Linked DNA regions of Homo sapiens. The protein of the gene in region 1 purifies or fractionates together with the protein of each later gene. This does not show direct contact. Each region holds a gene or a part of one and is shown on either strand. Other genes may lie near its edges.

Evidence for each region. The genes of interacting proteins can lie anywhere in the genome.
Region 2: the proteins of MGME1 (region 1) and ECSIT purify together in Homo sapiens (affinity purification with mass spectrometry; 4 studies listed by BioGRID and IntAct, with this or other methods). This does not show direct contact.

What each region holds. Positions count from the first base shown.
Region 1 is NC_000020.11:17,974,464-17,979,661, forward strand, and holds part of MGME1 (mitochondrial genome maintenance exonuclease 1 isoform 2 precursor), read left to right. Parts: intron 1-1,220; coding exon 1,221-1,440; intron 1,441-5,198. UniProt on the Homo sapiens protein: Metal-dependent single-stranded DNA (ssDNA) exonuclease involved in mitochondrial genome maintenance. Has preference for 5'-3' exonuclease activity but is also capable of endonuclease activity on linear substrates.
Region 2 is NC_000019.10:11,512,135-11,515,634, forward strand, and holds part of ECSIT (evolutionarily conserved signaling intermediate in Toll pathway, mitochondrial isoform 1 precursor), read right to left. Parts: intron 2,088-3,500; coding exon 1,670-2,087; intron 1,146-1,669; coding exon 922-1,145; intron 1-921.

The DNA of each region.
Region 1 (5,198 bases):
TTAGATCCTGGGATACGCCAACAAATCCAGACACTACAGTTCTTTCGGAGAAACCTGGGGACGAAAAGTAAGGCTTTGACCTCAGAAAATGAACATACAGGAAAAATAATGTGTCCTAATGTGTCCTAATGAAATTTCTCTAGTATTCACATGTTATAAAATGTTAGGAAGAAAGAAGATGTGTCCTCCTACAAGCCATAAATCAGAATTCTAATAATCTAAAGCTAATTAGAAAAATATTACATGTTAAATATTAAATATTAGAATAGAAAAATGTATGAGGGAAAAAAATTGAGACACAGCTGAATTTTTCAGGCTGTTCCAGCACTAAAAAAAAAATACAGGAGAAGAATGTCACATATTTTCCTCTTCCTCCCCCTCCAGATTCCATAATATCAAATTCATAACTTTTCATTTGCGCATGCCTTATTTTCCATTCCTTGTTTGTCACTAATCCTGTTAGTAAAAGGATTCCCCCACCTATGTTCATAATTAAGTTTTGGTCTAAAAAGAACTACAAACAGAAGCACAGTTCCCTAGATTTCTAATTTTTTTTTATTTTATCACAGCCAGTTAACTTATTACATTGGATACTTAAACACATAGTACCATAAACTGGATGTGGTCTTGTAGCCGCCAGATCTTCAGTTTTGACTTTGGCCCAATTCTCCTAGAAGTACTTAATTTTAATTCATTTTATTACCTAACGTCCTATTAATAATCCCGTTGGTTTCAAAGTATATTCTTAGGTTTCACAAGAGGCTGAAATTTGGTCTTAGGGGTTGTCACTTAAAAATAACTAATGTAATTTTTGGCCGGGCACGGTGGCTCATGCCTGTAGTCTCAGCACTTTGGGAGGCCAAGGCTGGCAGATCACGAGGTCAGGAGTTCGAGACCAGCCTCACCAATATGGTGAAACCCCATCTCTACTAAAAGTAGAAAAATTAGCCAGGCACGGTGGCGGGCGCCTGTAATCCCAGCTACTCAGGAGGCTGAGGCAGGAGAATCACTTGACCCCAGGAGGCAGAGGTTGCAGTGAGCCAATATCGCCCACTACACTCCAGCCTGGGCGACAGAGGGAGACTCCATCCAAAAAAAAAAAAAAGAAAAAAAAATGTCATTTTTAATTGTATTGTTTCAGGGCGTTTTAGAGTATTTGTTTTTCAGTGTTAGCTTTGTTTGTGTTTCCCCCCTCCCCTTTTCCCTGATTTTCTTTTCAGACGTCTTTTTACAAGGGAAACGGTTCCACGAAGCCTTGGAAAGCATACTTTCACCCCAGGAAACCTTAAAAGAGAGAGATGAAAATCTCCTCAAGTCTGGTTACATTGAAAGTGTCCAGCATATTCTGAAAGATGTCAGTGGAGTGCGAGCTCTTGAAAGTGCTGTTCAACATGAAACCTTAAACTATATAGGTCTGCTGGACTGTGTGGCTGAGTATCAGTAAGTATGAGATTGGAGGTGAATTAATACAGCGTAGGACAGATGGTGCCTGTCAAAGGTGTGCCTGTAGGTACTGTAGCCTCTGTCTGTTTAATGTCCAGACCTTTGTGCTAGGTAAAAGAATTGGGTGGGGCGGGGTTGAGAACAGGTACAAGGAGAAGAGCCACGTAACCTTTGTCATCCAGTACTCCAAAATCAAATTGTTTGCTGGAGAAAGGTATATTCTTTGTTTGTTTGTTTTGTTTTGAGACGGAGTGTCACCCAAGCTGGAGTGCAGTGGTGCAATCTTGGCTCACTGCAACCTCCGTCTCCCAGGTTCAAGCGGTTCTCCTGCCTCAGCCTCCTGAGTAGCTGGGACTACAGGCATGCACCACCGCACCTGGCTAATTTTTGTATTTTTAGTAGAGACAGGGTTTCACCATGTTGGCCAGGCTGGTCTCAAACTCCCGACCTCAAGTGATCCATCCACCTTGGTTTCCCAAAGTGCTGGGATTACAGGCGTGAGCCACTGCACCTGGCCGAGATTTTTCAATCTCCCTAACATGGCCTGTTTGCCAGCCTGTCCTTCCCCTCCCCCAAAGCAAGGTACCTGCCATAAGATCCAATTTCATTCCTGCGTTTTCTTTCCTGTTTTTCTAAAGATAGCACCATGATCTGTTGGTTCTGAAAATCAACTCTTCCTGGCTTCCAGGCAGTGCTTGACATGGATCAGAGATCTGAACTTACTAAAGCTTCCCATGGTTGTTTTGTTTTGTTTTGTTTCGTTTTGTTTTTTGAGACGGAGTTTTGCTCTTGTTGCCCAGGCTGGAGTGCAGTGGTGCGATTTCAGCTCACTGCAACCTCCATCTCCTAGGTTCAAGCTATTATCTTGCCTCAGCCTCCCAAGTAGCTGGGATTACAGGCATGCGCCACCATGTGTGGCTGATTTTGTATTTTTAGTAGAGATGGGGTTTCTCCATGTTGGTCAGGCTGGTCTCGAACTTCGGACCTCAGGTGATCCGCCTGCCTCAGCCTCCCAAAGTGCTAGGATTGTAGGCATGAGCCACCACGCCCGGTCCCCATGGTTTTTATATCGTAGCTGTCTTACTGTTTTACTCAGGTACTTCAGAGTCCAAGTGTTACAGGAAAGGGGTCCTGATCCAGACCCCGAGAGGGTTCTTCGATCTCGGGCAAGAAAGAATTTAGGTTGAAGGCAGGCACAGTGGCTCACGCCTGTAATCCCAGCACTTTGGGAGGCCGAGGTGGGCAGATCACCTGAGGTCAGGAGTTCAAGACCAGCCTAGCCAACATGGCAAAACTCCGTCTCTACTAAAAATACAAAAATTAGCCAGGCGCAGTGGTGTGTGCCTATAGTCCCAGCTACTCGGGAGTCTGAGGCAGGAGAATCACTTTAACCCGGGAGGCAGAAGTTGCAGTGAACCGAGATGGTGCCACTGCACTCCAGCCTGAGCAACAGGTGAGACTCTGTCTCAAAAAAAAAAAAATAAAAGAAAGAAAAGAAAAAGCATTCAGGATGAGTCTGCAGTGCAAAGTAAAAGCAGGTTTATTAATAAAGTAAAGTAGTGGAAGTATAGCTACTCCATAGACAGAGCAGGGCGTTCCTGAAAGTAAGAGGAGGAACACTTCCACCCTAAGTACAGTGCTCATATATATAAGATAAAAAAAGAGATCTTGGGGAGATGTGCTCTACTGCAAGGGTTTGTGATAAAGGATTAATTTTCTTAATTATTATATTTTGCAAGAATCGATACTATCTTTAAAGCAAAATTAGGAATGCCTTCGTTCTCCAGATATCAGGGTATCTGGACACTCCCAAGTCTGGGTCTGTTTAGTAAACATTATTAATTTGTTCCCTTAACCTTAAACATCTAGAGGCTATGAATGCCTGACTTTCTGGGAATGCAGCCCAGCAAGGCCCAGCCTCACTTTCCTAGCCCTCACTCAAGATGGAGTTGCTCTCGTTCGAACGCCTCTGATACAAAGGTGGCTACAACCTGCAGGTACCCCTAATCCAAATAAGGCAAGCGATCACTAAGAACAAGATAGAAAAATCCGTTCATGTAAACCTTGAAGCTCTAGTTAAAATTTAAGTTTAAAAGCTTGTCTATTCCACAGCCCAATACAAATTCGTAAACTTTCTTAAAACATTATGAGATTTTTTTTTGGTTATTTATTTATTTATTTTTAGTTCATCAGCTATTGTGTGGCCCAAGACAATTCTTCCAATGTGGGCCAGGAAGCCGAAAGAGTGGGCACCCTTGATAGTCTGAAAACTGTTTAGACCACCTAATGGTTTTATTTTTTATTTATTTATTTTTGAGACGGAGTTTCACTCTTGTTGCCCAGGTTGGAGTGCAATGGCGTGATCTTGGCTCACTGTAACCTCTGCCTCCTGGGTTCAAGCGATTCTCCTGCCTCAGCCTCCCAAGTAGCTGGGATTAGAGGTGCACGCCACCACACCCGGCTAATTTTTGTGTTATTAGTAGAGATGGGGTTTCGCCATGTTGGCCAGGCTGGTCTCGAACTCCTGACCTCAGGTGATCCACCCACCTCAGCCTCCCAAAGTGCTGAGATTACAGACGTGAGCCACCGCGCCTGGCCTAGACCACCTAATGGTTTTATAGCACAACTGCGTCATATCTGAGAAGAGCCCTGTATACCAAGAGATTTAATAGACTTTGGTTGCCTTTTAGATAAACCAAGGAAGCCATACAGTCACCTCCACCCAAGGCCTACAAGAAGTTCCTGACACCCAATGCTTGTCATAGAGATGATAAAATATGTCCATAGCACTGTTGTTTGTTTTTTGCTTTTTAAGTCAACATCAACCTTGGTAATATGAACATTTTTGAAACTACGGTTTTTTTTTGTTGTTTTTGTTTTTGTTTTTGAGACAGAGTCTTGCTCTGTCACCCAGACTGGAGTGTGGTGGCCCAATCTCAGTTCACTGCAACCTCTGCCTCCTGGGTTCAAGCAATTCTCCTGTGTCAGCCTCCCCAAGTGGCTAGGACTACAGGCACCCACCACCACGCCTGGCTAATTTTTTGTGTTTTTAGTAGAGATGGGGTTTGGACATGTTGCCCAGGCTGGTCTCGAGCTCCGGGCCTTGAGTGATCTGCCCGCCTCAGCCTCCCAAAGTGCTGGGATTGTAAGTGTGAGCCACTGCACCCAGCCTAGAATTTTTTTTTTTTAAGACACAGTTTTGTTCAGTTGCCCAAGCTGGAGTGCGGTGGCATGATCTCGGCTCACTGCAACGTCCACCTCGCAGGCCCAAGCGATTCTCCCACCTCAGCCTCCTGAGTAGTTGGGACCACAGATGCGAACAACCACGCCCAGCTAATTTTTTTGTATGTTTTGTAGAGATGGGGTTTTGCCATGTTGCTCAGGCTGATCTAGAATTCCTGAACTCAAGCAAGCTGCCTGTCTCCGTCTCCCAAAGTGCTGGGATTTACAGGTGTGAGGCACCGCGCCCAGCTAAGAATTTTTTATTTTTGTTATTTTTTTAATTTTATTTATTTATTTTTTTGAGATGGAGTCTTGCTCTGTCACCCAGGCTGGAGTGCAGTGGCGCGATCTCGGCTCACTGCACGCTCCGCCTCGGGTTCACGCCATTCTCCTACCTCAGCCTCCCCAGCAGCTGGGACTACAGGCGCATGCCACCACGCCCGGCTAATTTTTTTTTTTTTGTATTTTTAGTAGAGACAGGGTTTCACCGTGTTAGCCACAATGGTCTCGATCTCCTGACCTCGTGATCTGCC
Region 2 (3,500 bases), on another chromosome or scaffold:
ACGAGTTTGAGACCAGCCTGGGCAACATGGTGGAACCCCATTTCTACAAGAAATACAAAAATTAGCCGGGCGTGGTGGTGTACGACTGTAGTCCCAGCTACTTGGGAGGCTGAGGTGAAAGGATGGCTTCAGCCTGGGAGGTGGAATTTGCCGTGAGCCAAGATAGTGCTACTGCGCTCCAGCCTGGGCAACAGAGCCAGACCTTGTCTCAAAAAAAATATGAAGAGGTCTGAGGGGCTTGTTTGCCCCTTATATTATGTGAGGACACAGCAAGGTGTCATCTTTGAAGCAGAGAGCAAACCCTCACCAGACCTAGATCTGGTGGCACCTTGATCTTGGACTTCCCAGCCTCTAGAACTGTGAGCAATAAATTTTTGTTGTTCATCAATGACCCAAGCTAAGAGATTTTGTTAGAGCAGCCTGAACGGACTGAAGCAGAGGTCACTCAAGCTGTGCTAGCAGTAAGGACCATGGGAACCTACCAGGGGACTCAGCCAGAGAATCAGAACTCAATTCACGGCCAGGCACAGTGCCTCATGCCTGTAATCCCAGCACTTTGGGAGGCCGAGGCAGGAGGATTGCTTGAGCCCAGGAGTTCAAGGCCAGCCTGGGCAATATAGTGAGACCCTGTCTCTGAAAAAAAAAAACAGTTTTTTTAATTAGCCAGGCATAGTGGTGTGTGACTGGAGTCCCAGCTACTCAGGAGGCTGAGGTGGAAAGATCGCTTGAGCCTGGGAGGCAGAGGCTGCAGTGAGCCGAGATAGTGCCACCACACTCCAGCCTGGGCAACAGAGCAAGACCCTGTCTCAAAAAAGAACTTGATTCACCACAATCACTAGAGTGAGAGAAGGGGAGCCCAGGGGAGGAATGGCGGGAGCCTGGCCTGGGGTGGCAGCTGACGCTGTAGACAAGGGCGGATACCTGGTAGATGGTGACCCTGGCACTAAGGTCAGGCTCCATGTGCCGCAGGCCAAACATGGCCAGCTCCACAGGGTCCTGGGGCAGGTCCCGGGGCACTGGGAAGGGGTTGACGTTCATGAATCGAGGGAACCACAGCTTCAGGCGCACCAACTTGAGCATGGGGTAGCTTTTGCGTCCAAAGATCTGAATCAGCAGGAACTCCGTCTCCTTGTTGGGCATCACACCTGTGCTGGGCAGATGCAGGCAGAACCTCAGAGATGGAGGGGGAGGAGGGAAGGGAAGAGGAGAAAAGAAAACAGTGAAGTGAGGGAATTGATCACAGACAGGGAGAAAAGAATCAGAGAGAATTAGAAAGAAAAAGGCTCATGCCTGTAATCCCAGCACATTGGGAGGCCAAGGGGAGAGGATCACTTGAGTCCAGGAGTTTGAGAGCAGCCTGGGCAACATAGTGAGACCCCATTTCTAAAAGAAAGAGAGAAAGAGAGGAAGGAAGGGAGGGAGAGAGAGGCAGGGAGGAGAGGAGAAGAGAGGAGAGTGGGGGGAGGAGAGGGAGGGAGGGGGGAGGGGAGGGGAGGTCAGAGGGAGGCAAGAAAGAGAGATGAGTGATGAAAAGAGGGATTCGGAGAGGGAGAAGAGCGAGAGAGACAGAGACGGAGCCATGGAGGAAGGAGGGGCTGAGACTCAGGAGAGGTGCTGCCAGCTATCAGTGTAGCCCACTCCCCACCCTGCGCCAGCCTCCTGGCCTCACCGTGGTTCTCCATCTGCTCCAGGACAGCAATCCCACACTCCTGCTGCCGAGGGTAGTGGACGAAGATGCGCTGGATGATGTTGCGAGGCCGGAAGACCTCCTTGGGGAAGATGTTGAGCAGCTGGTTGTACACAGCCAGGTCCCGCTCGACACCATACTCCCGCATCTTGCGCAGGGCCAGGTAGATGAAGTCAATGTGGCCCCGCTTACGCACGCTGTGCTCCGCAAATTTCTGCACCGTCTGCAGGAAGCTCGCCTTGTCCCGTTCCCCACCAGGCGCCTGCCCAAACAGGTCCTCAAAGGGCACCAGAGCCTTGGTGGGCCTCTGCCGGGGTTCCGGTGGGCTGGGAACCAGGGACTGTTCAGAGCTATGGGCAGCTGCGCTGCAGTGGAGGCCCCGAGGGAGCCGGCGAGGGACCTGGGGAGGGAGGAGAACTGCTGGAATCTGGCACCTCTCAGTGTCTATGGGGGGCCGCCAGGCTGGCTCTTTCCTCAGAGAGGTCCCAGTGGCCTCCCTGAGGACTCGGAGGTATGGAACTGTGGTTACAAACCCAAGATTCGAGGCCATTACAAAGTGCGATAAAACACAATGCTGGCACAGTAGGGAGGAAACAGGCACTGTTAGCCATGGCTACGGGGAGCTGGTAAAAACTGCCACGGAGGCAACTTGGTAATATTCACAGTGATGACACACACATGCCGGTTTTTTTTTGGGTTTTTTTTTTTGGTTTTTTTTTGAGACGGGGTCTGGCTCTGTGGCCTAGGCTGGAATGTAGTGGTGCTACTGTGGCTTACTGCAGCTTTCAACTCCTGGGCTCAAGCAATTCTCCTCCTCACCCTGTCCAGCAGCTGGAACTACCGGTGTACACCACCACACCTGGCTAATTTTTAAATTTTCAGCAGAGACGGGAGTCGCACTATTTTGCCCAGGTTGGTCTTGAACGCCTGGCTTCAAGTGATCATCCCGTCTCCACCTCCCAAAGTGTTGGGATTACAGACATGAGCCACTGTGCCTGGTGGCCCTTTTTGCTTGTAATTTTTTTTTTTTTTTTTTAGACAGAGTCTCATTCTGTCACCCATGCTGCAGCGCAGTGGCGTGACCTCAGCCCACTGCAACCTCTGCCTCCCATGTTCAAGCGATTCTCATGCCTCAGCCTCCCAAGTAAGCTGGACTACAGACGTGCTCCACCACGCCCTGCTAATTTTTGTATTTTTAGTAAAGATGGGGTTTCATCATGTTGGCCAGGCTGGTCTCAAACTCCAGGCCTCAAGTGATCCACCTGCCTCAGCCTCCCCAAGTCTTTTTTTTTTTTTTTTTGAGACAGAGTCTCGCTTTGTCACCCAGGCTGGAGTGCAGTGGCGCGATCTCGGCTCATTGCAAGCTCCACCTCCCGGGTTCACGCCATTCTCCTGCCTCAGCCTCCTGAGTAGCTGGGACTACAGGCGCCTGCCACCACGCCCAGCTAATTTTTTGGATTTTTAGTAGAGACGGGGTTTCACTGTGTTAGTCAGGATGGTCTCGATCTCCTGACCTCGTGATCCGCCCGCCTTGGCCTCCCAAGTGCTGGGATTACAGGCATGAGCCACCGCGCCCGGCGTAGCCACCTTAAGTCTTGAGATTACAGGCATGAGCCACTGTACCCAGCCCCTTCTTTCTTTTTCTTTTTTTCTTGAGACAGAGTTTCACTCGTCGCCCAGGCTGGAATGCAATGGTGTCATCTCAGCTCACTGCAACCTCTGCCTTGTGGGTTCAAGCGATTCTCCTGCCTCAGCCTCCCAAGTAGCTAGGATTACAGGCGCCTGCCACCATGCCCAGCTAATTTTTATGTTT